Linked DNA regions of Homo sapiens: regions 1, 3 and 4 are each linked to region 2. The links come from fine-mapping of genetic effects on gene expression. A gene starts in region 2. Each other region holds a variant in brackets. All regions are shown on one strand. Distances are from middle to middle.

Region 1 (8,041 bases), 42 kb after region 2:
TGGGTGGGCAGGCCGCTGCCTCCCTCAATAATTTCAGAAAAACTGAGACCATTTGGACGTTTTGGACACTGAACATTGCCCCCCAAAGGTACAAGGCTGGACACTTGGCCCACACGTGGTCCTAAGTCTCCTTCCTGCCCTGGGTCCCTCTGTCCCATCTCTGAGGCTCTCCCAAAGCTGCCCTCTGTGTGTGAGTAAGCGTCGCTCCTGATCTCTGTGTCAACACAGCCTCATTTTCTTCTTTTACGTCCCTATGGGTCCTCCTAGGGAGCTTTTACCATGAGAGCCCTGAGCTTTGTGTCTGAGAGACCCAGAAAAAACACACAGGCTCTGCTCCCACCAGAATGTGATCTTGGACAAGCATCCTCACGGCTCTGAGCTTGGGTTTCCTGTCTGTAAAACGGGGGTATGTATTTGCCTGTGGGCTTTTCTGAGGGTCCAATAAAGCAGTGTATGCAGAAGGCGCTCAGCACGGATCCTGGGCCATGGCCAGGTGTTGTGGCAACCGAGAGTCACCGCTGTCTCTGCAGCACAGTCACCAGGCCAGACTGCAGTGCTGGGCTGAGCAGTGGGTCCTGGTTTGCTGGGGCCCTCTGGGTTTAGCCCAAAAAGTCCCTCAAAGAGGAGCTCCTCAGCCCCAGGCAAAGTGGGTGTCTGGTCTCTCTAGGACCAGCTCGTGCGGAATTCAAAGGTAAAGGGGAAGAGGCTGGAAATGAAGATGCCACCAATACGCCCGAGAAAAATGCTTTGTCCTGGGCTCTTGGTGTCTCGCCCAGCAGCCGCGCTGTCCCTCTTTCTCGCTCACAGAGCTGGGTTTTGGCAATGTGTGCCCCCAGTGAGGCCCTCTGTGGCCAGGTGGGCTACAGCCCTGTAAGGTAGGAGGAGTCTACCAGCTCTGCAAGGAATTTGCTCCTCCTGATAAAAGGGGAACCAGTGTCCAGGCCTGCACCCCCGCCTCCTGCCCTGGGAGTGGACGAGGCGTCTGGCACTGTGGACACCATCCTTGATCATGAGGCAGGAGCTTGAAGAGAGGCCAGGACAACCTCAGGGACATGGCCTCGTATTGCGGAGCTGCCGGACCAGAGCTGCGTGCCACCTGCCTCTTAGCCGCGGGCGCCCCAGGATCCCAGCCAAGGGGCTGGGCGCTGCCACTCAGGCTCTGTCCGCTGGGGCCAGTGATTGGACGGAAGCACCAATCTTAGGAATTCCAAGTTCCTAAACAGTCGTGGTGTCCAGTGAGATGGGGTCTTGGAGAAGAGTGGATATGCATTTGAATGGCAAGCATTTACTGGGCACTCATCTGAACCAGACACTGCCAGGTACTGGGGGCCAAAGACAGCCCAGCCTCAGTCACTGGTCTCTGTCCCACTCCAGCCAGCCATGTCCAGGAGTCAGGATTCTATAGCTGTGAGCAGGCACAGCAGGTCAGCAGTAACAGAGCACCCACCAAGGGCAAATGCCCTGTCCCCAGGGCAGATTGGGGCAGGCAGAGGACAGGATTCAGCTGACCAGCCCTAAGAAGTGAGCCCTCCTGGGGCACTGTCTGAACTTCCTGGCCAACTCTGGCTTCGGTTGCCCCATTGTTACTGGGGATCACCCCCGTCCATGGCGGATGGGCTGTCTCTGCAACTCTCCATCTCTAACAACTGTACCCACAGTCCCTGACCTGTCCCAGTGTGACCCAGTCCACTCCATGCCCGAAGCTGGGAGTGGCCTCCTGGGGACCCAAACTCCTCAAGCTGCAGACACCCTGGGATTCCCTGAGATGGGCGGATGGAGGCCCAGCTGCGGGGAGGCGCGTTCCTGCTCGGAGAGCAGTCAGGGCTTTGGGGGCCAAAGAGAGGCAGGAGGCCGAGCCACCCCGTGGTGAGCTGCCCAGGGCGAAAGGCTGCCTTGACCCTTCCACGGGCCTCCCTACCCTCGGGGAGATTGGTCAGGGCTAGAAAAACGCTTTAGGTAGAGATGAAGCCAGCAAGTGGAACAAGGTTAGGAAGCTCTTTGTTTTAAAACCATGTGTAACTGCTGATGGTTGAATTTTTTGAGATAGGAGAGGCTGAAATACAAACAATGACGAGCACAACCATCAAAACAGAGCCAAGCACACCTGCAGCAGCCAGTCCAGGGGGCTGGCCTGCTCCACAGTCAGACTTGCCAGAAGTCAGACCTCCTCTAGCGACGACTCAGGCAGCCACAACGCAATCCCTGGACCAGCCGGCCCCAGAGGGCCAGGAATGCATCCATCACCGACAGGTCCTATGGCTTTTGTCCTCGCTTCCAACTCAGAGCCAACCAGAGAAAGCCACACATGCTCCCTCACCAACCCCTCACCGCCCGTCTGATGAGCCACCCCCAGCACACCCAGCTGCAGCCTGCACGGGACCTGGGCTTCCTTTGCCTTAGTGAGGCCCCATCCCCTGCCTGACTCAGAGGCTCTGAAATTGCATGTGATGGTGACTCAGAGGCTTTGAGATTGCACGTGATGGTGGTGACTGCCCTCCCACAGCAAGCTCTGGACAGAGAGTCTCGGCCTGGCCTGCCTGGGTGGGCTTCACTGACCTCCACAGGGATTTGAATTCTCACTGTCAATGCTTTCAGCTTTCTACCTAGAAGAAATCTGGGGGTGTGGATGGGGGTAAGAGCTGCTGCTTCCTTCTAGGTTTAGTTGGTCAGGACCCAGGAAAAATATCAGAAATGCCAGCCACTCTTTCCTCTTCCAGAATCCTTTTCTGAGGCCACTGTTTCTCTGGGGGTGGCTGAGACACTGGCTGGAGCAGGTGCTGGTCTCAGGACTAAAACTCTCAGAATCTGGCAACCGCCAGATTCACCAGGAAAGTGAGTCCAGTCACAGCCATTCCTTGACCTTGGGGAGTCTAACTCCTGCCTGGGGCAGTTCGCTTGAGTACCCAGAAAGTGGACGGGGCGGCAGAAGCGAGAATGGGAACACCCATTCATTCACTGGAGCGCTCACTCATCCATCCACCTAACCCATCAAACACGCAGGCAGGCAGAGCTTTTCCCAGGCCTCTCCCACCCAGATGTGGAAAGGGAGCAAAGCCTGACTTCTGACAGCGACAGCTCCTGGAAAGGGCCCAGCACCTGGGGGCCCTGCGTTCCCACGGGAGCCCCTGTTCGAGGCCGTGCAGCCTTCACAGCCGCAGTCCCGGGCCCTGCCGGGTGGAAGGTGGCCCCATCCTCTACCCCGACCCCACTCCACAGGCAATGCTGGCAGAGAGGTCCTGGGAGGTGACTGTTTCCCAAGGGCATCGATGTGAGCAGGGGTCAGGACTGCATGCTCTGAGTCCCAGCATTCTGGGCCTCAGTTTACCCACATGTAAAACGAGAGGTCAGAGCAGAAGTGCAGGCACTGGCTAAGCGCTCACACCCTGGAGCGCGGCTGTCTACGTGGAAATGGCCGTGAAGGCAAAGGACACATGGAACTGTGGAGAGCCAGCGTGATGGAAAGACTGAAACATCTCACTAGTAATTTGACACTGATCCCATGTTGAAATCATCACGTGAAATACAATGTTATTGCAATGAGTTTCATCTGCATCTTTTTAATGTGGCCACTAGACAATGAAAAGCACATCTTCGGCTCATGCTGTGTTTCTATTGGACGGCCCTGGCCCAGGGCAGCAGTTCTCAGCCGGCTGTACTTTAGCATCACCTGCAGAGCCCTAGAGAAGCACAGAGGCACCAGGCTCAGCCAAACCAGCACGGCCTGCATCCCCGGGGTGAGGCCAGGGGGTCTGTAGTTTCCACCATCTTTCCAGGGGGCTGGCAGGGCTGAGGCGGTGGAGGAGGGGACGGCTCAGCCATGGGGCCTCTCAGGTGCACAGGAATCGGTGGCATCAGGTTGAATGCGGTGCTGGTGCTGGAGGGCTGGGCCCGGCTTGCCGCTGGGCGTTTCTAACAAGCTCCCCAAACCAGATGATGCAGACGCTGAGGGTCCTTGGACCTCACTTTGAGAAGCAAGGCTCCCACGCACTTTTTAGGTGTAATGGTCTAAAATTCTGTCTTCCTTAATTTCTTGAGAGTTTGACTCTTAGATGTCAGCAGTAAAGCTATGGGCCATTGGTATATGATTCTAGCCCCAAACCAATCAGTTCCCTCCACTGTCTGCAGTTGGTACCAGGTTATCTGGGAAAAAGCCACAGACAACCATCCAGTCCCCTTCATGTACAGGCCAGAGGTTGATAGGAGGGGCTTCCTTACCAAATACTGTGGTCATATCGTCATCCATATTTTTAAAACTTGACTAACTTGACGGCAGTCCAGAACTTGAACCTAGGGGGAAATAAAAGCCCTATAGTTTAACAATGTTCATTGAATTTGCATTTGCTTCTCTTTAAATGGATACCGTTTTGTGGGTGCCCACCAGCCCCCTCTAGAGGAAGGAGCCTGTCACGCGTATCCATATAGAAGACCACCTAAACAGGCTTTGTGTAAGCAACAAGGCTGTTTATTCACTTGGGTGCAAGTGGGCTGAGTCCGAAAAGAGAGTCAGCGAAGGAAGATAGGAGAGAGGCAGCTTTATAGGACTTGGGTAGGCAGTGGAAAGTTAGAGTTGAAGGTAGTTATCTGTTGTCAGCAGGAGAGGGGGGTCACAAGGTGCATGGTGGGGAGATCATGAGATCCATTGTCCAGGAGAAGAATGTCACAGGGTCGATTGATCAGTTAGGGTAGGGCAGGAACAAGTCATAATGTTGGAATGTCGTAAGGTTGGTTAATCAGTTAAGGCAGAA[A/G]CTGACTGTTTCACTTCTTTTGTGGTTTCTTGGCTGCTCCAGGCTTCTTGGCTCCTGCTGGGCATCTGGATATATACGTGCAGGTCACAGGGGTTACAATGGCTTAGCTCCAGCTCAGAGGCCTGACAGAGCCCTGCCTGAGTTCCAGTCCCTCCTGCAGGCCATGAGAGATGGCCCTGGGAAAGTTCTTTGGGATTTGGGCTTCTTGTCTGGAAAATGGGGGGAAATGTTCATCCTCGGGGTGGCTGTGAGGATGGAGGACAATTGCCCAGGAGCTCTGAGCTAAGCCTGCCCTCCTGGTCCCTGGTCCCTTGAGAGGCCGAGACAACATCCTGGTCCCAAGGATGTCTAGGCTTACCCAGCTGTTTTGAGGTAAGCAAAGTAAGAGGGCACATCTCCTTTTGTGAAAGCAACACTTTGACCTCTTTCATGACAGCACCCGCAATGCATGCACCTGTGTCAGAGGCGTTTGAACCAGAGCCACTCCATCTTGAGTAGGGGCTCGGTAAAATAAGGCTGAGACCTGCTGGAGTGCATTCCCAGGAGGTTAGACATTCTAAGTCACAGGATGAGGCAGGAGGTCAGCACAAGATACAGGTCATAAAACCTTGCCGATAAAACAGGTTGCAGTAAAGAAGATGGCCAAAACCCACCCAAACCAAGATGGCAACAAGTGTGACCTCTGGACGTCCTCACTGCTACATGCCAACCAGCGCTATGACAGTTTATAAATGCCATGGCAATGTCAGGAAGTTACCCTATATGGTCTAAAAAGGGGAGGCATGAATCATCCACCCCTTCTTCAGCATATCATCAATAAATAACCATAAAAATGGGCAACCAGCAGCCCTTGGGGCTACTTTGTCTATAGAATAGCCATTCTTTTATTCCTGTACTTTCCTAATAAACTTGCTTTCACCTTATGGATTTGCCTTGAATTCTTTCTTGCGTGAGATCCAAGAACCCTCCCTTGGGGTCTGGATTGAGACCACTTTCTTGTAAAATCTTTCCGGTGAACCATGGAAGAGATGATACTAAAGAGACCCCCAACCCAAAGGAAATAGACTGCACACTGATTGGCTGACCTTGTAAGTCATTTGCATTTACCCGGGTGAAGGGTGGGATTGGGTTAGAGGCCCAACTTAAGGGAGTTAGAGTCTCTCCTAAGACAGAGTGGGTTAAAGGCAACTCTTAATAAAAGGCAAGAAAGCTTGACTGAACTTGGGTTCAAGGCCCAACTTAGGAGGGTTAGAGTCCTTCCTAAGATTTAGGGGGTTAGAGGCCCCTCTCAGTAAGGTCCCTCTCAGCTAAGAACATGTTTGGCACTAAGGGATGTTAACTGCTATTCTCTTTGGATTAATCTGCCTTGCACTCTTTGCTGATGGCTATGGGTGACAGAATCATGGGACATGGGGGGCTTTTTGCTCCCTAAAGGGGGAAACTTGAGAGCTGATGGGACTGCTGGAAAAGATCCCTTTGCTACTGACAAGCGGCTGCCCGAACTTTTCAGTGTCACTACAATGGCTGGGTCTTTCTCTGGCCTCCTTGAGCTCTTCACCTTCCCCACCCTGCCACAGGCACTGCTTTCTCTCTCTTTCCTTTTCCTTTCTTATCTTTTCTATTACTCAGGGCGACCATCTTGCCCAGAGACCACAAGTTGAAACTCCCGGTTGGGGGTTGGATTAAAAGTGATGGGGCCCTGAAACCCCGTCTCTACTAAAAATACAAAAAAAAAAAAATTAGCCGGGCGTGATGGCGGGCGCCTGTAGTCCCAGCTACTCTGGAGGCTGAGGCAGGAGAATGGCGTGAACCCGGGAGGCGGAGCTTGCAGTGAGCCGAGATCACACCACTGCACTCCAGTCTGGGCGACAGAGTGAGACTCCGTCTCAAAAAAAACAAAAAACAAAAAACAAAAAAGTGATGGGGCCCAACCGGGGGCAAGCTTGAGCTTTGCCAGTTTGATATTGAGTGCTAAGCATAGTGGCTAATGTCCATGTTTTGTCATGTATTTTGCTCTGGCCAGAACAGAAAAAGATTATTTTCCTTTGTGTCGCGGCTTTGTCCCCAGGGCTGTGGAGCAGCGAGCCAGGTCACTAGGGCCATTCAGGGAAAGGGAACCCACCAGCCTGGCATGCCAGCAAAAGGGAAAGGATTTCTTACCAGTCAGACTTCTGGCCTCTCTCGTTCTCTCTGTGCAAACCATTCTCTCTCTCTGTGCCCGTTGAATGAATGGTAAAAATCAGTTTATCTCTTTCTATAAAGTTTTGATTAATAGGAAAAGGGATTCGTAAGGCTAGTCTTAAGCTGTAGTAAATCTGGTGTGCTTTGCATATTTTTCTGTATTGTTCTGTCATAAAGAGGGGTAACTTAGGATAGAATGCAGGCTTAGGACCCCATAAGCCTGCTGTTCAAAATGGCCTTGCAAACTGGTCAGTAACAAACTTTGCTGCAGGTCCCTGAGGAAAAAAAAAAACTGAATAAAGTTTTCCTCTCATCTTGTTTCATGTCCTTGGGAGCTTGACCTTGTAACCATATGGCGGTACTTTCTCTTGGTCTCTGTCATCTGGAGAATAGGAATTTTGGAGTTCATGTAAGTTAGCCCTAAAAATCATCTCAAGCAGTTAAAAGCCTTCACAAGCTCAAAATCTGCTGCTCTGGGCTCCTTCTGATAAGAGCAATGGAGACTGCCCAAGGCTGTATGTAGGTCAGTAGCTAAGGCTTTCTCTCTTCACAGTGGCGGCCCAGGTTCAGGGCTCAATTCCTGTCTTAAAAAATAAGTCCTTTCTGGTTTAATATCTGTGTAAACATTTGTTAATTCTCTTCCCCTCCACAAATGGTTTTAAATTTTCCTTTCTCTAAGCTCCTGGGAGTTTACCTTTGGTAAAGTTCAAAAGCCAGAAATACTGGCCGTTTGGCCTGGCTAAAGTTGGGTAATAAGAAATTTAAAAGGTTTTTTTTTTTTTTTTGAGCTCAGTTGGGCGTGGTGGCTCACGCCTGTAATCCCAGCACTTTGGGAGGCTGAGGCGGGCGGATCATCTGAGGTCGGGAGTTCAAGACCAGCCTGACCAACATGGTGAAGCCCCTGTCTCTACTAAAAGTACAAAATTAGCCAGGTGTGGTGGTGCATGCCTGTAATCCCAGCTACTCGGGAGGCTGAGGCAGGAGAATTCTTGAACCCAGGAGGCAGAGGTTGCGGTAAGCTGAGATCACGTCATTGCACTCCACCCTGGGCAACAAGAGCGATATGCCATATCAAAAAAAAAAAAAAAAAAAAAAAGAAAGAAAAGAAAAAAAAG
Region 2 (8,041 bases):
ACGCAGACATGTCAGTACACTATTCAATATTACATGAATAATCGAAATTCTATAATGGTGACAAATGGCATTGTTACCAGTTTTTTAACAGATTAAGTCACTCTTTCCCAATGCCATGCAAATTTTAAAGGACATTTAAGATAACATATTCCCTTGTCCTTATGAAAAAGACGGTAGATAGAAATAGAAAAATGCAAAAAGACGACTAACACTATACAGATTTAAATATTTGTTTCCCTACAATTGAATAAGCCAAAATCAGAAAATATTGGACTGCGCTGTTCCAAGACTTCTATCAAAACTGTTTGTTGCACAGACTATTCTAAACAAAAACGTTAAAGGGATTGGTGGGTTAAAAAACTTTGTGTAGGCCGGGCGCAGTGGCTCATGCCTGTAATCCTAGCACTTTGGGAGGCCAAGGCGGGTGGATCACTTGAGGTCAGGAATTCGAAACCAGCCTGGCCAACATGGTGAAACCCCATCTCTACTAAAAATACAAAAAAATTAGCCGGGCGTGGTGGCGGGCACCTGTAATCCCAGCTACTTGGGAGGCTGAGGCAGGAGAATTGCTTGAACCCAGAAGGCGGAGGTTGCAGAGGGCTGAGATCACGCCACTGCACTCCAACCTGGGCAACAGAGCAAGTCTCCATCTCAAACACCAACACCACCACCACCACTTTGTGTAATGCCAGGCGCAGTGCCTCATGCCTGTAATTCCAGCACTTTGGGAGGCCAAGGCGGGTGGATCACCTGAGGTCAGGGGTTCAAGACCAGCCTGGCCAACACGGCGAAACCCCATACTGGGGTTTCAAAAATACAAAATTACAAAAATTACCTGGGTGTGGTAGTGCATACCTAGAATCCCAGCTACTCAGAAGGCTGAGACAGGAGAATCACTTGAACCTAGGAGGTGGAGGTTGCAGTGAGCAGAGATCACGCCGCTGCACTCCAGCGTGGGCAACAGAGCAAGACCCTGTCTCAAAAAAACAAAAAACAACAACAAAAAACCCCACAAACTTTGTGTAGCCATAGTAAACTCGTCATAGTCAAAGACTATTTTCTATAGTGTGCACAACTGTGCACTTTTACACAAGCCAGCACTGAATACTCATTGAATAATCAATAGAGGCCCCATTCTCCACATTTTTTTACTCTTTTCAAAACCCTATGGGGGAAAAAAGCCTACAGCATAACTGAGCAATGCACCTAGTGGGTGACTAACATGGCAAGTTAAGACTTTGTGGCCAAGCACCAATACCATGATAGCCTCTGGCTAAAATAATTTAGCGCATTCAACAAATTTACCAAGTGCCTACCATGTGCCAAGCAACTGTTCAACCCACGTTCTCTGATCCTGGACTGCTCATTTTCCCTCACTCCAATCACAATGCAGTTAGGGAACAAGCTATGCCTGACTGCAAGCAATTCTCTTCAAGAGGAGAGACCTCACCTGAAGACAAAACACCTGACACTACCATCTCAACTCAAGGTTTCTTTTTCCATTTCTCTTAGCACTTTCAGGCTTTCAGTAAACACTCCTGTGAGATGAAGAGTACACAGATTCAAAACACCCTCTTCAACCAACTTGGACCTGGGAGTAAAGGCTGATGTCTATTTATTGCCTTTATTAATTCACTGGGTGAAAATGAAAGTATTAATTAGCGATAAGATGAACAGGTTGCAAATCCAATAAAAATAAAACGGATGAAAATCACTTGGCGTACCAAAAATCAGCTATTCAGGGCTCGCTGGCTTTAAACCTGTTACCCTTGGGTTCAATTTAGAAACTTGGATTTGGAATTCTGGAAAGATACTGTTCAATATGGTATAAAAGCTACAACAGAGATTTTAAACAACTCGTTTAGTCCTCTGGCAACAAACGAGTCTTACCAACGGTTAGGGGATCTTGTGCACCACTAGCACATTTCTAAGAACACGAGCCTGAAACCTGTGTAAGAGGGCAGCCGTTAGCAGGGCTGGGGAGAAAGCCTGGACTTCGCAAGCGGTAGCCCTGAGTCCTGGCCTGATTTCTGTCCTAACGGCTTCTTCTCAGAAGGGAATGTTTGGACACTGGACAGGGGCTTTCTAAGGCCCCTTCCGTATCTAAGACCAAAGAGCCCTATGATTCAGACAGCTGGAAACAATGAAGTAACTGCTTCTTGTTACAACATTTGATGACCAAGGTAAAGCTACTACTCAAAGTCCCATGGAAGTAGACTTTTGAAAAGTGATTTCAGTCGGTGTTTTTTAAAAAACTGTGATAAAATACACATTAAAAATTACCATTTTAAAGTAACTATTTTAATCCCCAGAGACAAGTGGAGGCACCACTGGATTAAATTTTCTAAGTGACCATCTGTAATGAGGCTTTAAGCATTCTACAGATCGTTGTTCACTGACTATCACCCAGTATTGTGTCGTTCTCAACCAGGGTAGAAAGGACAGAATCCTAAAGTTTAGTGTAAAAATAAACCACAGCAAGAGACACTCTGGAGGGAGGAAATCCTCAGATTACTGACTGCCTCGGGAAATCTATTTAAGGCTGCACGCAGAAGCGCAGGGAGGAGGCTTTATTACTTTTGTTTGTTAAGAAACTCATTTCCCCTGGGCACCTGTTTTCTCCAGCAGGTACTACGGTTGCACAACTTCAGAGACAGTGCCACAGGAACCTAACAGCCCTTGAGGACTGATTAACTTGCTTGTCCCACCCCGATCGTCAAAACTCCTTTTCATTTCTTTTATTGAAAGAAAAGTGACTTTTCCACTTTAAAAGAATCAGAAACTGCTTTCCAAAAGACACAGCTGCTTTGTGAATGTAGCACCAGGGGCAGCAAGGTAAACCGCAACTTCATCAGCTGGTAACGACATTACCAGGGCCAGGCCTTCTTAAAGTAACTTATTTCACATTACCTCTCACATATTTCTGCAAAACCATTTAACCCCATCTCATCACTTACGAGAAAAACACTATACACATCCCTGAATTTCAGTGAATTAAGAAATATTAATTAAAACCAGTCACTTCTGAAATGCACGGTGAAATCTTATTTAAGATTTCTGAGAGCAAGTACCCCAACGACTTCACAGATGAGGAAACGGTAGCTATCCAACCTTTTAAAACCTTAAAGCAGCACTGTGTTCCCCCAGAATTTTCAGTTTAAGAAAAAAGAGGGGAACGTAAAGCCTCCACGGGAAGAGAATTCTGCTTAATTTAACCACTTCTGCAGTAATTTAGATCCAAGATAAACACAGCCGTCACTAATTTTGCTGAAGCGGGGCCAGCTACAAGCCTTAAAGCAAACCCAGAAGCTGGAGAGCCGGCCTCCATCCCACACAGCTGCCGGGGCCTTCCAGTCCCGCCGGGGCGCTTGCTCCTCGGCTGAGCTCGTCCGCAGCGCGGCCCTCGGCTACTGGCGAGGCTGTGCGGAACCAGAAGGTCGACCGCGCCCGGGCATTCCCCGCGCGCCTCTGACCCCAGCTCGGCTCCCCGGAAGCCGCCTGGGCGACTTCGCGGCCTAATACCCGGCTCTGCGAAATCGCTCGCGCCTCCGGCCCGGCCTGGAGGGCCCCGCACCATCCGCGCGCGCGCGCGCTCGCACAGGATCCGGCCAACAGGCGCCGGGACCCTTGGAGCCCGCCTTGTTAGAAACTTGCTACGCGCGCCGCCGCACATGCGCCCTAGGCCCCTCCGGACGCAGGCGCCACCGACCTCGCTTCCGCCCCGCGCCCCCCGGCTGCCCCGCCGCGACTCCGGGCCGCGAGCGCTGCCGCACAGGCGCCCTAGGCCCCTCGGGGCACAGGCGCCGTCGATCCCGCTTCCGCCCCGCGATCCCGGCACGCCCCACGTCCCCCGCACCTCAGACCCGCTTTCCCCGACTCCCACTGGACAGCCGGGGAAAATGGCGCCTTAAAGCGTTCGCACCCACCTTGCCGAAATGCGCGGCCCAGTGCACGGGCGTCCAGCCATAGAAGGAGTCCTCAGAGGCCAGGTGGGCGTGGGGTGTCTGCTGCAGCAGCGAGCAGAGCGTGGCCAGGTCCCCGTCGCGGCAGGCGCGGTGCAGCGGGAAACGGAGCGAGAGCAGCTCCTCGCTGGAGAAGCCCGCCTCTACGCCCGCGCCCGCTCCCGCCGCCGACATGGTCCGTCACCGGAGAGCGCGGGGCTCGCTGGCCTAGAGGACGCGTCGGGGAGGACTCGAGAAGCCGCCGCCGCAGCACAAAGGAACGAGACTAGCGCCGCGGTCGCGTCCCACAGGCTGCCGAGCGGAGCGCGCACAGAGGGGGCGGGGCGGGGCCTGGAGCGGCCGGGCTGGGGGCGGGGCCTGGCCCAGAGGACGCCTTGTGCAGCCGGGCAGGGGTCGGGGCCTGGAGCCGCGGACCTCTGGAGCCGCCGGGCAGGGGGCGGGGCTTGAGCCGGAGGCCGCCTGGAGCAGCCGGGCGGAGGGCGGGGCTTGGAGCTGCGGACGCCTGGAGCGGCCGGTAGGTGGCGGGGTCTAGCCTAGAGGATGCCTGGAGCAGCCGGGTAGGGAGCGGAGCCTGGACCAGAGGACGCCAGCAGCAGCCGATTAGGAGGCGGGGCATGGGGCTGTCGACGTCTGGAGCAGCCGGGCATTGGGCTTGGGCTAGAGGACGCCTGGGGCGGTGGGCGCCTGGAGTAGCCAGGCAGAGGGCGGGGCCTGGCTTGGGTCCACGCCTGGGGCGGCCGGGGGCGGGGCCTGGCTGGAATTGACGCGTGGAGCTCCGGTGGAGGGGGCGGGGCCTGGCTGGGCCGCTGCCTACAGCGGCTTCCGGGGCTTGGAGGTCACGGGGCTCGGAGGTCACGGGGCTCGGAGGTCACGGGGCTGGCTGTGTGGGGGGCTCAGGGGCGTAGAGTGGCCAAGCAGCGGTCTGAGCGGGTCCCGGGGCCTCCGGCGCGGTGGGTCTCGGCTGCGCCCCGGGTGCGGACCATGATGTTTCCAGCCTGGGAGCCGGTCCGGGCGGGGAATCCCGGCTGCCGGGGGCGCGGGTTGAGGCTCTGCGGGCCCGCGCCCAGAGCGGGTGGGAGTCACGGGTCTCCCGGAGGCCCAGTAGCGCGCGGTGAAGTTGTCCAGTAAAAATTTATGGAGCGCCTACGGGGAGCAGGGATTCTCGTTAAAATCTGGGAATCAGCAAGCCCTAGTTCCTTACAGAGCAGGACAGATTCCTCGGTTTTGTCCGAGGGACGCCTTCTTCGGAACCGAGTGCGGTGGGCTAGGACTATACGTTTGCAAGTTTAAGAGATAAGCGAGAAGACCAGACAGAGCAAACAATAAAAGGCTTTTTGTTGAGAACTGTATAAATGTAAGGGAGTACCAAATCCCCTATTTTGAATGACAGTATCACGGACTTTATTACATATGTAATTTTATTCTGATTATGAAAGCATCAGTAATTTCACTATTGAGGAATAACCACAATGTTTATGAATATTTCCTTTGCTTCTAAATATGCGGTCTTTTTAAATCATGTATTTTATTTCATTTGTATATATAGTTTTTCGCTGTGTAAACTTCCTTTTTGCAAAATTCTACGTCACAAATTGAACAAGGCAATTAGATGTCTAGGGAAGTACTGATGCACGAGAAAGCATATTGCAGCATTGGTTAATAAAACGAAAAAATAGAAACCTAAGATTTAACAAAGGGAAGTTGTTAACTAGTGGTGTAAACACTCAACACAGACATGTCTTCATACAGCAAACATTTGTTGAGTACAATGCTGAATGAAACACATTGAGAAACACTCTATAGTGGGGAAGTAGCAAATATTTCAATTCAGTGAGCAATTGCTAATGAATGGAAAATATGACACATAGAATCTATCTTCTCCCAGGGAGTTTGTAATCTGTTAGTGAAGCAGGAAAGAATAATCAAGCAATACTTTTTTGTTTGGACCAAAAGGGTGAGAATAGACTATAAACTCATTTCAGGTTTTGTTTACTCTAGAACGTAATCATTTTTCTTCTCACATGCCATGTTGATTTTAATCTAATCTCTTTAAAATATATCCCCCTGATTTCCATCTTTCTTAGGAGAGAGGTGTCCCATTTTGCGAAAGGACGTGAGTGTATCTTGTCCTCCATGTAATGAAAGGGAGGGATTACTTGCTAGGCTGCATTCTGGGAATGGTGAAACAGAGATGGTGGTAAGTCAAGGAATTTGTCCAAGGGCAAACTGCATGCCTGTGGCAGAGCTTAGAATAATATCCAGACCTAGGTTCCAACCCACTGTTAGATTTTTTTTAACTTTGGAATTTATTTTGCATAGAGTATTAAGGGCTAGGAAGATAAAATAGGTTATAGTGATAGGGTACTTCGTGTACGTCTTTCCTCACTTCAGATGACTGGGTTTTTTAAAGGATTATTTAGACTATATACATATTTATTTAGCTGTACAGGAGTAGACTGACATATATACGTGGTGATGGATCCCCAAGACAGATCCTGTAACTGTGGCAGGAGGATTGTGGATAGGATGGTGTCTACTGACTATTCCCAATGCCAGTGATCTAATTGGTTGGTCACCCAGATTTTGCTCAACTCTGATAATTGTCAGATGCATTCCAACTAGAACTACTCCATCTTAAATGGGGCTGGGTAAGATGAGGCTGAGACCTATTGGGCTGCATTCCCAGATAGTTAAGGCATTCTAAGTCACAGGATGAGATAGGAGGTCAGCACAAGATACAGGTCATGAAGACCTTGCTGATAAACAGGTTGCAGTAAAGAAGCCAGCTAAAACCCACCAAAACCAAGATGGTGACGAGAGTGACCTCTGGTCATCCTCACTGCTACACTCCCACCAGCGCCATGACAGTTTATAAATGCCATGGCAACATCAGGAAGTTACCCTATGTGGTCTAAAAATGGTAGACATGAATAATCCACCCCTTGTTTAGCATATAATCAAGAAATAACCATAAAAATGGGCAACCAGCAGCCCTCGGGGCTGCTCTGCCTAAGGAGTAGCCATTGTTTTATTCCTTTACTTTCCTAATAAACTTGCTTTCACTTTACTCTGTGGCCTCACCCTCAATTCTTTCTTGAGTGAGATCCAAGAACCCTGCCTCTCCTGTGGTCTGGATTGGGACCCCTTTCCTGTAACAATCATTACCAATCTCAGATTTCCTTTGAGACTCTCATTTTTTAAAAGCTCCAAAGAGAAGAAGAGTAGATTCATAACATCTTTTTCATCTGATGAAGCAACCATACACAAGCCAACTTAGGCATTTGAAGATACAATCCAAATCCATGAAAGAAAACAGGAAAACTCAAAACTTAACATATTAAGATTGCCTTTAGACTGGAATTTTTTTTTTTTTCAAAAAAGGATTGCATTGTATGAGAAATTGTGGAAGTGGGGTAGGGCTCAGTTGTGTGAATGGCACAGTGATTCAGTGTCCATACGTGTGACAGACATTGATGGGCATCTCTTGAGTGTCGTTATTACACCAGGAGCAGTGCGCCCTGAGGGACGTGGGGTTGGAGAGCAAGGTAGGCCCCAGTTGATGTTCCATATTAAGCATGCCATGCTAAGGAGTGGCTTTTTACTTTCAAAAAGTTTGGGAACCAATGAGGGGTTTTGTTGTGCCATTTAAGGGAGGGAGTGATGACTTGGGATGGAGGGGTGGGGGGACCCGGGTCAGACTTGCAGCTTGGCTATGAGGATGGAGATCAGGGAGCCCACTGTGACAACACCTTCAGGACTCAACGTGGGCCTGCAAGCCTTGCTGTTTTCTCCTCGGCCCCTTCTCCATTCCTATCCACATCCACTACGCTGGCAAATCCATCTTTTGAGAGGGCAAATCTGCTTAAAAATTGATGTAGGAACAGTTTCCAAAACTTGTCATTCAGATACCACCTGCATGTGGATTTTTTTTTTTTTAGACAGGATCTCACTCTTGTCACCCAGGCTGGAGTACAGTGGTACAGTCATGGCTCACTGCACCCTTGACCTCCTGGGCTCAAGGGATCCTCCTGCTTTGGCCTCCGAAAGCCCAAAGCACTGGGATTACAGGTGTGAGCCAT
Region 3 (8,041 bases), 51 kb after region 2:
TTGTGGTTTTGACCATGGCTACCCTAAGACTTTGCCATCCACAAACAATTGTCTTGTGCTAATCTCCTTCAAAAGGTGGTTTTATAATCAACTATAGGACTTTAACAGGTATGCTTAAATGCAGGTTTCTAATAACTTTGGAGATTGTAACATTAGAATAGAGGAAAAAAATTTTCAGCACTCATGGACAGCTAAAATGTTCATAAATATCAAACCAGAGTTATGCATGGACCAAACTAATAGAAGTCTAAAGTAGTCTTTTATCCCTTGTTTTGTTTTTCGGAGTCAAGGAAACTTTTCTTTTAAGCTATTTACAGCTTTTAACAATTAAGTCTACTCCTGTGAACAAAAGTTGAAGCATATTTGCCTCTCTCTACCTGATTTCTTCAGAATTTGGAAACTATTTGTAAGTATTCTTATGGCAATACAGTTATTTGCATAAGTGAAATAAAAATCTGCTTTCTTTTGCAACAGGACACAATTAAAGAAACTGGTTATTTTACCAAGGATTTCACTGGAGTGATGTGCTTTCCTTTAAGGAATCAAGCTTAATTTACAGAGCCAATGAAAACCCTTTGGGGGCTGGGCACAGTGGCTCATGCCTGTAGTCCCAGCATTTTGGGAGGCTGAGGTGGGCAAATCACATGAGGTCAAGAGTTCAAGACTAGCCTGGCCAACATGGTGAAACCCTGTCTCTACTAAAAATACAAAAATTAGTTGGGTGTGGTGGCATGTGACTGTAATCTCGGCTACTTGGGAGGCTGGGGCATGAGAATCACTTGAACCTGGGAGGTGGAGGCTTCAGTGAGCCAAGATTTTGCCACTGCACACCAGCCTGGGCAACCGAGCAAGACTCTTGTCTTAAAAGAAAAAAAATCCCCTTGGTAAAACTGGCCTCATACCTTGTCTACATAGTCCCTGTACAGGGTTCCTGACCTGTGTTAAGTAAAAAATGTCACTTTCTGACAGGCCCAGGAGCCCCAAGTTATCTTAAAACCTCAAAAGAAAAAAATTCACCCAACTCATATAGGTATTTGAGGATACAAACCCATGTCTGAACTCTGCTTTTAAAAAAACTGTCTTAACTGAGATTCCTTCTATGGAACAAAATTCCATCAAAGCCAATTTTAAAAGCCTGTGTGAATAATAATTATTCTTGCTGCACTTTATACAAATAATCAGGCCAAGTATAATAAAGCAAATCAGTCATACCACAATTTGTCTTTGGTAAAAATGGGAGATGGGAAAGAAAAAACATTATGTTTCAAGAACTATGGTGTACCTGTTATTAAATTCTAGTCTCATCAGTTGTTTTTAAGTTTTTTTCCTGCAATTTAGACTAACTTTTCTTATTCCTGTGAACCAACCAGTGATCTATGACTGCTGCTCAGAAGAAACAAGATGTATGGGTAATGTAAAAGTCTAAATCAATATTCTAATTTTGGGCATGTATTAAAATCAGCTAGCAATCCCATATCAGCTCAGTTTCAACAATTGCCCATTTCATAAAATGCCTTCTAATTTAGTTTACTTGGGATAATTTTACTTATTTTGCTTTACTGTTGTAAAACATATTGCCATTGTACTCTTTGTGTAAAAAGCAGAATAAGCTTACCAAATGTTCTCTTAAATTAAACACTTATTAATCTTCCAGATATCACCTTTTGCTGGAACTCAAAAGTTATGAATGGCCCTTGCCACACCAATGCTTTCTAATTAAACTCCTCTCTACCCTGAATGCAAGAAACTCAATAGTTAGGAATATCATTGCCCCTGTTCAGCCTAAAAAAATTACAAAAGATGGTCTTTGACCCTCTACAACTCTTAGGATTAAGGGTTCTCCTATAAAAGAGAGGGAGGGAAATGTCAGAGGTGTTTGAACCAGAGTAACTCCATCTTGAGTAAGGGCTTGGTAAAATAAGGCTGAGACCTGCTGGAGTGCATTCCCAGTAGATTAGAAATTCTAAGTCACGGGATGAGATAGGAGGTCAGCACAAGATCCAGGTTGTAAGGACATTACTGATAAAACAGGTTGTAGCAAAGAAGATGGCCAAAACCCACCAAAACCAAGATGGTGACGAGTGTGACCTCTGGTCATCCTTACTGCTACACTCCCACCAGCACCATGACAGTTCACGAATGCCATGGCAACATAAGAAAGTTACCACATATGGTCTAAAAAGGGGAGGTTTGAATAATCCACCCCTCCACCCCTTGTTTAGTATATAATCAAGAAATAACCATAAAAATGGGCAACCAGGAGCCCTTGGGGCTGCCCTGTCTATGGAATAGCCATTTGTTTATTCCTTTATTTTCCTAATAAACTTGCTTTCACTTTACTCTACGGATTTGCCTCAAATTCTTTCTTG[C/A]ATGAGATCCAAGAACTCTCTTGTGGGGTCTGGATTAGGACGCCTTTCCGGTAAGACCTGGAAGCTTAGAAACATGTTCTGGGGAAATGGGAAACAGTTTGCAATGCTATGGCTGCATCATGAAGACCTGGCTTCATGGCTCTGTTTTAGGAGGGGCAGGACTCAGAGAGACGGGCCACCCCCTTTCTCCTCCTTCGTAAGCAAAGTGATTTCAGGGTGGCCCCATTTGCAGATAAGAGGTGGAGTCATGTGGGTGAAATGCTGATGTCTGGAATGTGGGTTATTCACAGGACCTGTGGCCTCCTGACCTGTAGCCTCAGCTGCCTGGCTGATAGCAGCTGACCCTGCTGAGTGACTCCGACAGTGAATGGTGATTCTGAGCACTTCTTTCTCCTTGTTAGCCCCCAAACAATGGTTCCTTCCTTCTGCCATTCACAGTTTTTCTTTATTGGAGGTGTGGTGTCTCAGTGTCCTGGGGCATTGCTTAGGCTCAAGGTCAAGGTCAAGGTCAGTCTCTTCCTCCAGCCCCGAGGTTGGGCTCAGCAGGGCCATGCACCTTCCCTTTCCTAGTGCACAGAGCTTTCCAGTGGTGTCTTCTAGGATCTGAAGTTCCAACACTAAACCAGTGACAAAGCTGATTTCCAAATGGCTTTAATGACAGACAATCTACACACCAATCAACTAGTCTGAGCACATGAAGGCTCAGAACAATGAGGACAAATATGCAAAAAGGTCTGAGATGTGATGACAATTGCTTCCCAGTATGCTGACCTTCAGTAAATGAAACAAAGTATGGTTCTCTTTGGATGAGACATTAATGATCATTAAGAATGGGTACGGCTGCATCGTGCAAGTGCTTTGTTAAAAATATTCTTTTCATTTTGTGTCTGTCCCGTAATTATAATGGAAGTATTGTGCAAGTCAGCCAGTAAGCATGTGCAGTAAAATATTTGGGTTTTATAACATCAGTGTGGTTTTTGAAGTTCATTGTCAAGTGGAGTGGCTTTGCCATATCCTTCATGTGTCACCTCTGACTTCAGCCTCACGGTTTAAGATGAACCATGATGTTCATCTTAATGATGAATGCTGTGTAATCATGATGTTAAATATGAGTTATAAATTTCTCTTCAAAGAATTAATATGACAGTATGTTCAATTCTTTGCCTTCTACTTTTAAACTTAACTTCCTTGTAAAGCAACCTTTTCTGATTATCTACTCCACCCTGACTCATTCTCCACCTTGACTCATTCTGATTACCTACTCCATCCTGACTCATTCTCCACCCTGACTCATTCTGATTACTTACTCCACCCTGACTCATTTTCCACCCTGACTCATTCCGATTACCTGCTCCACCCTGACTCATTCTCCACCTTGACTCATTTCATAACCGTTTTTCCCTCCAAACAACTCACCCTGTCACTCTCTTTAAATTACTCAATCAGAATTAGTTTAGCCTGTACGGTCTAACCCTAGCCAATAGGGGAATGACAAAGCAGTAGGGACCATGTGCATAAGGAAAAATAACCCCTTTCCCTCCTTTGTCCAGGTGTGCACTCACCAGTCCTCCATCTGTAAGGGCATACCCTTCTATAGAAGTACCTTGCCCTGCTGAGAATTAAAAAGAAAATTTTATATTCGAGTGCTATTTCTTTTGTGGCACCGAAACTTTACTTATAACAATTTGGGGGCTCATCCGGGATTACATTCCCCTCCGGGGGTGGTCTCTGGTTCTCTCTTGTGAGGAGGTGCACCCCACCCCACTGTGGCGGCCTCAGGGGTGAGAAATCAAGACCCACCCAGTGTGAAGAATAACCTGAGCTCTCAGCTACATGGAAAGAAACTGGCTAGCAACCTAGCTTAAAGCATCCTCCATAAGGGCCACACAAGTGTGTGCATGGACCGAGGAAAAGACACCATGGGAGCCGGTAAAGTATTTCCTTGGTGGTTGGGAGCAAGGTAAGAAAGCCGTGGCAGGGGGTGGTGAAGTACTCCTTGGTCAGGGTGGCTTAGAGGTTAAAAAGAGGTGAGACATCCCCATTGGCAGGGACTGAACCTCACACAAACCTCCAGTAATAGAAAAGGCAAGTATGTTCCAGTGGTGGAAATTGAACCTCACCCCGAAAGGCAAGAAATTTCCAGTGGGGGGAATTGAGCCTCACCCCAAAAGGTGAGAAATTTCCAGTAAGGGAAATTGAACCTTGAACTCTACCCCAAAACCATCAAGATGGGAAATACCCCAAGCAAGACAGGGAGCAAGAAGGATAAAGATGGTAACAAAGATATCCCCCCAGATAGCCCCCTAGGTCTCATGCTAAAATACTGGAAAGATAATGAAAGGATAATGAAAGGATTAAACATAGGAAAAAGCAACAAATGATAAAATATTGCTGTTTTATTTGGACTCAGGGACCCATCCTCAGACCCTCAATCTTCTGGCCAAGGTTTGGATCAAATGAGGGTGTAATGTGTCAGCTTCTAATCTGATACATTAATGATAAAAGTCCAGTGTCCCAAGAAGAACTAGGCTATGCCCTTTGTTGGAGGGAAGGACCTGCCCTTCTTTTTCCCTTAAAAACAGATAGGGAAGAACCCAATCTAGCACATCAAAATTAAAAGTCAGAGGAGCCAGCTCTCATGCCTAAAGACTCCAGTGCATGGGATCCCCTAGACTATCTTCCCCCATTCAGTGTCCTCAGTCTTTCCCCTCAGACAGCCATTGCCGCCTCAGATCCCTTTCCAAATTTCCCCTCTACTCACGTTGTCCCTCCTCCTTATAACCCTGACTCTTGGGAATTACTGTCCCACCAGCCTGTTCCCTCCCAACCTAAATATCCCTCTCCAAAAGGACTCTAGTGTGAGGTAGAACAATGTAAAAAAGATATTCAGAATTTCCCATTTCTCTCTGTACCTAAGAGGTCAGCCCTGACCCTCTTCCCTTTGAAAGAGGTACCACGAGGTGGGGAGGGCCATTGGCTTTGTAAATGCTCCCTTAACCAGTTCAGAAGTCTGGAATTTTAAAAAGGAGCTTAAACCACTACTAGATGACCCTTATGGAGTGGCAGACCAAACTGACCAATTCTTAGGACCTCAGTTATACACTTGGGTGGAGTTAATGTCCATCTTGGGCATCCTCTTTTCAGGGGAAGAAAGGAGTATGATTCACAGGGCTGCTATGGTAGTTTAGGAATGTGAGCACCCTCCTGGTGAAAACTTTCCTACCGCAGACCAGAAATTCCCTGCCCCTCGAGACCCCCAGTGGGACAATAACGATGCAGGTCACTGGGAAAATATGCAGGAACTAAGGGAGATGATAATAAAAGGAATTTGGGAATCAGTACCCTGAACCCAAAATCTTTCTAAAGCATTTGTTATACAACAGGAAAAGGATGAAGGGCCTATGAGATTCCTAGACAGACTGAGGGAGCAAATGAGGCAATATGCAGGCCTCAATTTGGATGATCCCTTTGGGCAAGGAATGTTGAAATTCCAGTTTGTCACTAAAAGTTGGCCAGACACTTCAAAAAAGTTGCAAAAGATAGACAATTGGGAAGACCGTCTGCTAAGTGAGCTCCTCAGGGAAGCTCAGAAAGTATATGTGAAAAGGGATGAAGAAAAACAGAAACAAAAGACAAAACTTATGTTTTCCACCTTCCAACAGATGGCTCCAAACCCAGGTACTTCTAGACAGAGTTTCCAGGGAGCCAGAAACTATAAAGGGTCTAAACCCTATTTTAAAGGACCCAGCCTCCATCTGGAGGACCAAGGTCCAAGTTTACCAGGCCCCCTAAAGAGTATGGGGGAGCAAAGTTAAAGAATCCCAGAACTAAGAGGAAGGAAGGACAAGATAAGTGCTATAGATGTGGAAGAACAGGCCACTTCAAGAGAGGATGTCCTGAACTAAGAAAGGAGAAAGAAGCCCTTCCACTCATGACTTTCAAGGAAGAATAAGGGAGTCAGGGGCTCTGTCTCTTTTATCTTGAGTCCCACCAGGAGCCCCTGATAAATTTGGAGGTGGGACCTAAACATGAGCTTATCACTTTTTTAGTTGATTCAGGGGCTGCTCACTCCTCTGTTTGTTTCCCCTCGTCTAATGTTGTCTCCTCCTCAGAGGAACTTTTAGTCTCCAGGGTAAAAGGGGAAGGGTTTAGAGCAAACATTTTAGAAAGCACAGAAGTTAGATACGAGGATCACTCAGCTCATATTCAGTTCTTGTTAATCCTTGAAGCAGGAACTAATTTACTGGGGAGGGATTTAATGTTAAAGTTGGGCATAGGTCTACAAGTCAGCCCAAGAGGATTCCTCACTTCATGAAACCTACCCACCAATGCGGATGAAAAATATATTAATCCTAATGTCTGCCCAAAGAAGGAAACTGAGGGAAACTCCAAGTCCCTCTGATCCACATCATGCTAAAAACCCCGGGAGAAGTAGTAAGAAGGAAGCAATACCCTATTCCCCTAGAAGGTAGGATAGGGTTGAAACCTATAATCAAAGGCCTTATTAAGGACAGGTTTCTCAAGCCCCGTATGTCTCCATATAACACCCCAATACTGCCAGTCAAGAACAGACGGGTCATACCGGCTAGTACAGGACCTTAGAGCTATCAACCAAATAGTCCAGACTACCCACCCCATTGTCCCCAGTCCTTACACCATTCTTAGCAAGATTCCATATAATCATCAATGGTTTACTGTAATAGATTTGAAGGATGCTTTTTGGGCATGTCCCCTGGCTGAAGACAGCTGATATATTTTGAATGGGAGGATCCCCACTCAGGGCGGAAACAACAATATCAATGGATGGTCTTGCCTCAAGGGTTCACAGATTCCCCTAATCTTTTTGGCCAAATTTTAGAACAAGTACTAGAAAAAGTTGTCATCCCAGAACAAATATGCCTTCTTCAGTACGTGGATGACATTCTTATACCTGGTGAAGATACAGAGAAGGTAACTGACTTCTCTACACATATTCTTAACCATCTGCAGTTTGAGGGGCTACAAGTCTCAAAAAGAAAGCTTCAGTATGTAGAGCCCGAAGTTAAATATTTAGGCCACTTGGTAAGTGCAGACAAGTGAAGAATAGGGCCTGAATGAATCGAGGGAATCATGTCCCTACCCTTGCCTCAAACTACCAAGAATGAAAAACTTGCCCAGCAGAAGCCTAACCATCTCCTGTGGACTTCTGAGGAAGTTTATCAAGTTGAGGAGCTGAAGAAAAGGCTCATAGCTACCCCTGCTTTAGCCTTACCCTCCCTAGAAAAGCCATTCCACCTTTTTGTTAATGTGGACAGTGGGGTAGCTTTAGGAGGCTGACTCAAGAACACGGAGGCCACCAGCAGCCTGTAGCCTTCCTATCAAAGGTCTTAGACCCAGTCACTTGTGGATGGCCTCAATGCATCCAGTCTGTCATGGTTACAGCAATACTAGTCGAGGAAAGCAGAAAGTTAACCTTTGGAGGAAAATTGACAGTAAGCATGCCTCACCGAGTTAGAACTATCTTAAACCAGAGAGCACGGAGATGGCTTACTGACTCAAGAATCTTAAAGTATGAGGACATTCTGTTAGAAAAGGATGATTTAACATTGACCACTGATAATTCACTCAATCCAGCAGGTTTCCTAACAGGGAATCCAAATCTAAGGAGGGAACACACATGTTTAGATTTTTTA
Region 4 (8,041 bases), 25 kb before region 2:
TCGAGACCGTCCTGGCCAACATGCTGAATAAATACTACTAAAAATACAAACATTAGCCAGGCGTGGTGGCGAGTGCCTGTAGTCCCAGCTACTGGGGAGGCTGAGGCAGGAGAATCACTAGAACCCAGGAGGCGGAGGTTGCATTGAACAGAGATTGCGCCACTGCCCTCCAGCCTGGTGACAGAGCGAGACTCCATCTAAAAAAAAAGAAAAAAAGAAAGAAAGAAAAAGAAAAAAGAATGGGAGAGGGGGGTGGTGGAAGAGCAGATCCCCCAAGTGTGCCAAAGTCGTCTCAACCTCCAGGAGCCTTCATGGCACGCAGACACAGAGAACCTGCAGCCAAGAGCGGGTCAACGTTTGCTCCTCCCACAGGCTGCAATCCTGCAAAGCCACACACGAACACGGTTTGTACAAAAGAGTGGACTTTGATGGGAATACAATGCAGACAGCTTAAAATACCTACACACTCAATTGGCGTTCAGATGCCAATGTTCCCCGGATAAAGTGGCAACTAGGGGTTACCTGCAATTTCACACCTCTGAAAAGCAGGTTAGAAAACCGCAACAGAGAAGAGCTTCACGAAAGCTGGGGTGTTTGTCTTCTCCTTCACTAGGCCCAGTACCTAGAATAGTACTCACATCAGCAGATGAAGCCCACCCACTAGCCAGGAGAAACAAAAACACAAGGTAAACAAAAACAAATGATCAGTAGCTGGCATAGCCTGTAATACAACCTGAGGAGTCACAACCATCCAGGCAGGCCTGGCCATGCGAGGTGCAGGGACATGCACCCTGAAGGCAGAGGTGCCACTAGGGGCCGGAAGAGCCGCGTTAAGGGCAGCCCAGGGAAGAGGCAGCGGGAAACACACTAGTCTCCCAGCAACAATTAATCCTGTAACTATAAGGCTCACAGTGACCAGGGACCTCTCAGAAACTGCTCCATTGAGTAGATGCATCTTTTGTTAATGCAGATGGTTTCTCTAATAAAGCAGGATAAGAATGAAAGGCTTCCATATTTTACCAATCAAGATTCTATTGTGGGAATCATTCCAACAGAACCTTAGAATTTCATTCCATCTCCATAGATACAGCCTCTCTATACGGTGTAGTTCCCACAACCAGCTGTCACAGAGCCTTGGATAATGCTGTTTCACGAGTGCCACCTTCTTCATTCCTAGTAGCTATACATAAGTTAATTGGCTGGTAGAGATATTAAGCCCGCAATTATCTCTTTTAATTATGTTGTAAGCCATGAAATTAAAACTGGCCTCTCAAAATTTTAAGAACATTGGATTTGGACCTGTAAGACCCTACCACCTGTGGCATTTTCCCCCACACCTGTTGCCATTGCTGAAGGAATCATTTAATTACACCTTGCATTTGAGAAGGGTGGCCTGTACAGACATTTCAGAAAAACATGTCTTCCAAGGTCATCAGTTTACTCAGTTTGGGAAAGGAAGCACTATACTTTCCTATCTTAATATTGATTCTTAAAGTTACACAATGATTGAATGCTTCTGAAAATGTTAGTATGACCACTTTTTTCAAAGGGTCTTCACCTGCTGACTGTAAAAGCAGGTGTCAGGTGTCTGTTGGGAAGACAGGCTTCTAGTACACCTGAGACACAACGTTCAGGATGGAAACCTATCTAGGACTAGCTCAAAACCTCCAGCCTCCCTGCTCAGAGATACAGCCACAAGCCAGGTGTGGTCACTGCCTGCCCTCCTAAGTGAGAACTAGAGCCAGTAGAGCACGCCTCTGGCTGAGAAACCCACATTCCTGACCCTGGGGGACACACAGAGATGCTCCACTTGGGGCTGATGCCCAGGGCAACTAAACGGTCTGCATTTGTATTTTCATCTGAAATTTGGGGGTTGCACAAAACCCCTAAAGCCAGTTCCCAGTAACTCTGTAACTGTATGAGCTATTCAGGATCAAGCAGCTTGAAACCATGAAAAAAGTCTTAGTTTCAAGTCCGGGAAGGTCTGCTGCATTACAGAAGTAATGCAATTGGACACCAAGGTCGTGCCACTACAGAGGCTTATGGGAGTGCTGACCAGGTGGAGTGAAGACACTCCAGTGCACCACTCATACTGACACACAGGAAAACAGGACTGTAATTGCCAGGCATGCCTGCAGATACATGTAAGGCTTAGGAAAAATGCCTGATCACAACTTTAATCTTTACATAAAAAACCAAAAAGCACTCTATAAAGTCATACTTTGGGATATGAAGTGCTCCAATCAGCCAGCAGGACATTACTCCCAAGACCCAAGCCATACTGGTTATATTCCCCAAGACTAAATCAGGAGACATTTTACAAGTCAGAAACTGCCAAGTAGTTTCACCCAATGAACTTAGGCAAAGCTTGAGATCCTGACCTAGATTAGTCATCTACCTTTTACTGTGCCTCTAGGTGCTGTGTGGAAGGGTCCCAGGTGTTGACCCATAACCCTTGAGAGGTGGCCAAATGGCCCAGGACCCCTCCCGCCTGTGGCCTTTCCACTGAACTGAGTGCATCCTGCTGCTGCTTCCACTGGGGAAGCCTCAATGTCCTCTCATTAAGGCAGCAAGGAAAGACACTCTGCCTTCCTGGTTTCCCACCAGCCATTACCTGGAACTATTCTTTGTTCTGCTGTAGAGCACATTTTACTCAACTTTTTAAGGTCCTGTTAAAACCAAATTGTTTTTCTATTATGAGGTGACCTTTCGCGGGACCCGCCAGGGCCCAGATTCCAGCAGTGCAGAGGGTTGGGATGACTCCAGGCAGCAGGAAGCAGCAGCGACAAAGGACAGAGAAGGGAACTGAGTGCTCTGGAAAGACCGGGGGGGACTGGGGGTTTGGCTCAAATAATACAAAAGCGGCTTGTGATCAAGTGTGCCAGTCTTCGTTTTGCTTCCCACTGGAGTGTCCACAACTGTGCTGAGGACAACTCAGGCCCATGAGGTTTGCTCAAATGGAGACTTTTAACAGTGGAAAACGCAGACACTGTCTGGACTGGAAGTGTAATTCAGACTGTATTTCAAGACGTCACATCTTCAGGGATCAAGAAAAAACAATCACTCCTTATTTGAACACAATTAGGTAGGTGTGTTCTATCATCCTGGCCACATTTTTATAAACAAATATACTGCAAATTTGAAAACAGTGAGGACGTCAGGAGTTAAAGTGCTATAATATGTAACTAAACTAGAAGGAACTAAATTACAAATTTACTCCTGGGAGGCATTTTATTTCCTCTCAAGTTTCAAGCAATAAACATCTATCATTTAACAAACCAGCTGGTCATATCTGCCCTCCTTTACCAAGTCTTTAACCCTGCTCAACACGAACAGCTAAGGACAAAAGGCAGAGATCCTTTATCCAGGTTAAATCCACTCTGGGAAAGTGTTAAAACTTTCCACCGGTAATTTTACCTTTAAATCATCATGTTGTAGATACTTTTTTCTGTAAGGTGTTTTTATATTCAATACCTTCACAGTATGAATGAGATTCTAAGATCAGTAATATGCCTATGTGATTAAGACCGAGCTGTGAAGTCAGTTTGACACTTGAGATCTGCTGTCACCACAGCCTACTTCTGGGGCAAATGTCCCAATTGTGAAATTGAAGTTATTGGGTCAGTTTTTAAACTCACTGTGTTCCCCTGCTTCTTCCCCACGACTCTAGAGCTCCATCCAAAACAATTATCAATCAGCAAAATCAAGTTTTCACTCATGGAAGGGACTGGCATTCTTTTCTAACCAAGATCATTGAAAAACGACCACAGTTTCCAAGGAGTACATATAAAAATAATTGTATTGGGTTATTCCTGAAGATTAACCAAGAACGCTAGCAAACCTGAACTGAGTTTTATACAGTGGTGCAGCTGGAGTCCTGAAGCCCATGCATCATACCATCAGAGCAAATGATTGATAAAAACAACAACAAAAAAATTAAAGACTGATACTTCCTTGCACCATCTAAAATGAACAAAATCCCACACTGAGGAAAGTATTATCCCAAGATACTTTCCATCAAAACAGACTGCTTAAGTAACTGTGGATTTTATTTCACACTCCAGAGTTCATGTCCACACCTATTATGTCTTACGTTCTGACTAAACTGCATTTGACACAGATGCAAATAATTTTATGAAAGTATGACTTCTTGTAGCATA[ACTTC/A]CTTCCAAGACAGTTAATATTCAAGCAATACAAAAGGCCAAGTCTTTCTTCTTCACTTAAGATCTTTTACATCAACAGCTTCCAAAAGAAAATTCCTCCAATTTAAAATACTTGAAAGTAGTTTACTAAAAGCAGACACTACTTTTTGTGGGGAAGAATGGTTAACATTCAGACTCAGGATTCCAAAGTGTTTTGGCTTTTTCTTTTTCTTTTTTAAAGGGTGAATTTTACAGGGATCTCCTTAAGAGGTGACTTAGCCAGAAAACTTTCTGGAAGTAATTACTTTTGTAAATATAAATTCCACACTAAAAGCATCAATATTTGTAACTCTTAAATTCTAGGAAAACAGAACGCACTAAGTTTTATTGGTAAGATACAAGTTACGCAGCCAAGATATTATCCCTGGCACCTGTAACTTTTTTTGTTTTTAAAGCCAAACAAAACAAAAAACCCAGCTTAAACTCTTCTAAATATTTTTATATGTGAAGTTACTCAAAGTATTTTATATACATGTGTTAAATGAGGAAAAAAGAATTTATCATTTCTTTTACTCTGGCATGAGAACCAAAAACCTAATAAAATAATTCAGATTAAGCAAAACTTAAAACACACATTTAAACAAAATCAAAACAAGATGCCAGAAATTACAACGAAAACTAAAGCAACATATCTTTAATTCAAAACTAAAAAACTGGTCAGTTAATATGGAAATAATTATATATCTATTGAAACCAAGAACAATTTCATGTAGAACATTCAGGTAATTGGCAGAAAAAAAAATCCTGTTTTAATGACCAAGAATGACTCCCAATACCCGACATCAGCACTCTCAGTATGTAATGGTAAAAGGGGGGCAAAAAATCACCTTTTCCCATAGGGAAACGAGTGGTGGGAGTGCAGGTGAGCTAAAGATGCCCATCTATGCTCACACAGACACAAAAAAATATAAACACACTCTTGTGACGAGTGTGGCAAATCTAAGGACTGTCAACTACATAAAAGACAGAACCATCAGAAGTTCCAGGAAATTAGTAAAGTCATGGTCAGTATACAAATTAGGAAAACCAAGGATGAGCAGCTTTGAAGTAATGTGCATCTTGGCTGAAATATTTCAACTGTGATAATCACAGAAACATCAGTCATGTACTGTGTACCTGCAACAGTGGCTCAACCTGTTAGGTCTACGTATTACCTGCAACACTTAAGCAGAAGTGCCGGCTCCAACCATATTTTTGTCTAAATTAGCACCCTCGGGCTTGGGACCAGGAATGTATAGTTTGGGAAGGCTGCATGGTGAGTTTAATGTGCAAAATGTGAACTTCTAATCACTGGTCAACCAAAACAAATCCTCCTTCTAAAGGAAGAAAATAAAACCCCCAAAGTCAGCAGGACTCTTTAAACCAAATTTATGTAGTTAACGAGGATTAGGAAACAAGGAATCCTCAGAAATGCTTTTCAGGGTAATTAAGCAATGTGGTATTGGCCAATTCAACTGACCTTAGAAACTCTGAGACTAGTTTTACGAACTCTTCTAGGTGCATTTTGAGTCCAATTAGCATGTTAAGTGATCTCTTTTTAAAAATACTAAACAGAATTTAAGATTTATCAGCAATAAGAGAAAATGAAGCATAAATCATTTTTCAAGGACATTTAGACTATACAGTGACATACAGGGACAGACATGTACAATTCGTGCATGAGGGCATGAGGCCACTCTACAATACTAACCAGGCTTTAATTAAAGGAAATGACAAAGGATTTTTTTAAAAAGTGGATGCTCTTAAAAAGGCGTTGAAACTACATTAGAAAAAATATATTAAAACATGGTACAAATAAATGACAATGCTGAATACATCACCATTAAAAAAGACCATTTTGAATTTTATGCAGATCTTCATGTCATGCTTATGATTTTAGCATCTTTCCAGAAATGCTTAACTCATAAAAATCTTGAATTTGATAAAACTGTTAAGTTCATACATTACTATAAAAAGTCTTATCACAGGAATTTTTATGGTGACAAGATATAGTTGTGAAGTACATAATACTGACATTTTATCAACTTTATAGGGAAAAAATGTTTCACTTGGACACACTCATTAAATAAGGTAGAAAAGATGATGTTGGTTCATGAAATTTAACCAAAATCTCTAGATTTTTAAGTGATTAACTGATAGTCACTCAGTTTTCCTTATGCTGTAACTTGCACGGTTGATTTTTTTAAACCAACGGGCAAAACTTTGTGCTTATACTCAGCAAATCTGAGCTCATAATCTGCTTCATTACTTCACACTCCCACCTCTCCCCCTAAGTTCACTAAATATGCCTGCCAAGCTATCACATTTACCTTCTTATTAAGACTTTTTTTTTTTTTTTTTTTTAAATAGAGACAAGGTCTCACTATGTTGCCCAGGCTGGTCTCGAACTCCTGAGCTCAAGTAATCCTCCTGCCTCAGCCTCCCAAAGTGCTGGGATTACAGGTATGAGCCATGACAACTGGCCTAAGACATCTTATATATAGATATAGATGATTTTCCTATAGGAAAGGGAGATGTTTTCAACTTCAAGAGTGACTGGCTGACTGCTTATTTGCAAACTCAAACCTACCTTAAAAACAAAAAACAAAAAACCCAAAAAACGGCTAGGCACAGTGGCTCATGCCTGTAATCCCAGCACTTTGGGAGGCCGAGGCAGGTGGCTTACTGGAGGCCAGGAGTTCAAGACCAGCCTGGCCAACATGGTGAAGCCCCTTCTCTACTAAAAATACAAATTAGCCCAGTGTGATAGCATGCACCTGTAATCCCAGCTACTTGGGAGGCTGAGACAGGAGAATTGCTTTAACTTGGGAGCCGGAGGTTGCAGTGAGCCGAGATCACAGCATTGCACTCCAGCCTGGGTGACAGAGCAAAAAAAAAAAAAAAAAAAATGGTGGGAGAATACTTACAACGAAAATAACTTACCTTAGGGACTTAAATCCTCAAGATCAAATTATACACCAGATCTTGCTGTGATAAGTCAACACACATGTGAGGTACAGAGACCACTGAGGTCAAATCATAGTACAGAAATAGTACAGAAAACATTCACCTTCCCGAATGTGAAAATGTTTTACTGCCAGACCATCAGCAATTTTTATAAGCCCAGGAACATTTACAAGAAGCAAATTAAAAAAAAAAAAAAATTCAGGCACAGTGGCAGATTTTCTTTAATAGATATATTTCAAACAGATACAACAAATTAAAAAATCTAATTCATGGCAGGTAAACATGGGTGCTCAAAAAGTTCCACATAGACATTTACACTTGGGCCATCAGTATTTCCCTCACATTCCCTTTTGTTAAGTCCCATCTTCGCAGTGGCAGTACAGGAGAAATCTCCACCGTCACCGCACAATCCACCAGGCGCATTACCACCTGAAGTGAAGGTCTCATCTCGAAGGTGCGCTCAGCCATAAAAAGAAAACATATTACAGAAAGGAAAAATAAGTGTGCTCTTCCCACCCGCAAAGCGGTCTCACCTTCAGTTCTAGCTTTCTTTACTCCAAAGTCTTCTGAGTCTTCCAAGCATCTCTTTCGATTTGTTCCCACACTAATATGATTAGGAAATACATTCTGATGACCCCCATTTAAGATGCCATTGTTATAGAAATGGTTCAGATGACAATTCTGGAGGTTCAAGAGAAACTGGGCACACTCTTGGAAACCCTGGGTTTGTGCAATGTCTGCTGCTGTCAGGCCACTGGCATTTCTCAGGCTGTACAACACAAAAACACTGAATTACACCCCATCCGCGTGCTAACCTGGTCTCTGCTCCTGCTGAACTGACTAGCTATCTGAAGGTGGTATGAAAGAGTAAACAAATTCATAGCAAATCTTCA

Alleles and levels. Positions count from the first base shown, and alleles are read on the strand shown. Sizes are in standard deviations (SD) of each study's normalised expression.
For the expression in monocytes after R848 of the gene that starts at base 4,271 in region 2, allele A in region 1 goes with a lower level than allele G (large effect, 1.0 SD a copy in Quach 2016).
With allele A in place of C in region 3, the expression in monocytes after LPS of the gene that starts at base 4,271 in region 2 is higher (large effect, 1.1 SD a copy in Quach 2016).
For the expression in fibroblasts of the gene that starts at base 4,271 in region 2, A is the high allele of the variant in region 4 and ACTTC is the other (small effect, 0.18 SD a copy in GTEx).

Evidence for each region. PIP is the estimated chance that this variant, and not a neighbour inherited with it, causes the effect.
Region 1: its variant is the best candidate, but not a certain one, in a credible set for the expression of ANKRD10 in monocytes after R848 (Quach 2016, PIP 0.73).
Region 3: its variant is the best candidate, but not a certain one, in a credible set for the expression of ANKRD10 in monocytes after LPS (Quach 2016, PIP 0.64).
Region 4: its variant is the best candidate, but not a certain one, in a credible set for the expression of ANKRD10 in fibroblasts (GTEx, PIP 0.86).

Annotation. Positions count from the first base shown.
Region 1 is chr13:110,952,965-110,961,005 of GRCh38, forward strand. It overlaps LOC105370364 (a long non-coding RNA gene), which reads right to left. Exons shown (of 3, transcript XR_931732.3): 2 at 4,216-4,287. Among named protein-coding and RNA genes, the nearest start is that of LINC00431, 9.0 kb to the right of the region's middle. RefSeq lists enhancers at 2,956-3,757, 4,023-5,222 and a cis regulatory region at 4,302-4,865. The variant A/G (reference allele first, on the strand shown) is at 4,746.
Region 2 is chr13:110,910,799-110,918,839 of GRCh38, forward strand. It overlaps ANKRD10 (ankyrin repeat domain 10), which reads right to left and starts at 4,271. Exons shown (of 6, transcript NM_017664.4): 1 at 3,927-4,271. The coding sequence starts at 4,136. RefSeq lists enhancers at 2,883-3,559, 3,283-3,412, 4,911-5,585 and silencers at 3,523-3,892, 4,163-4,822, 4,953-5,112.
Region 3 is chr13:110,961,791-110,969,831 of GRCh38, forward strand. It overlaps LINC00431 (long intergenic non-protein coding RNA 431), which reads left to right and starts at 4,237. Exons shown (of 2, transcript NR_126378.1): 1 at 4,237-4,329. All of the region lies in intron 1 of LOC105370364 (a long non-coding RNA gene), which reads right to left. RefSeq lists an enhancer at 3,189-4,388. The variant C/A (reference allele first, on the strand shown) is at 2,370.
Region 4 is chr13:110,885,347-110,893,387 of GRCh38, forward strand. ANKRD10 (ankyrin repeat domain 10) reads right to left here. Exons shown (of 6, transcript NM_017664.4): 4 at 7,682-7,917. Among named protein-coding and RNA genes, the nearest start is that of PRECSIT, 19 kb to the left of the region's middle. The variant ACTTC/A (reference allele first, on the strand shown) is at 4,161.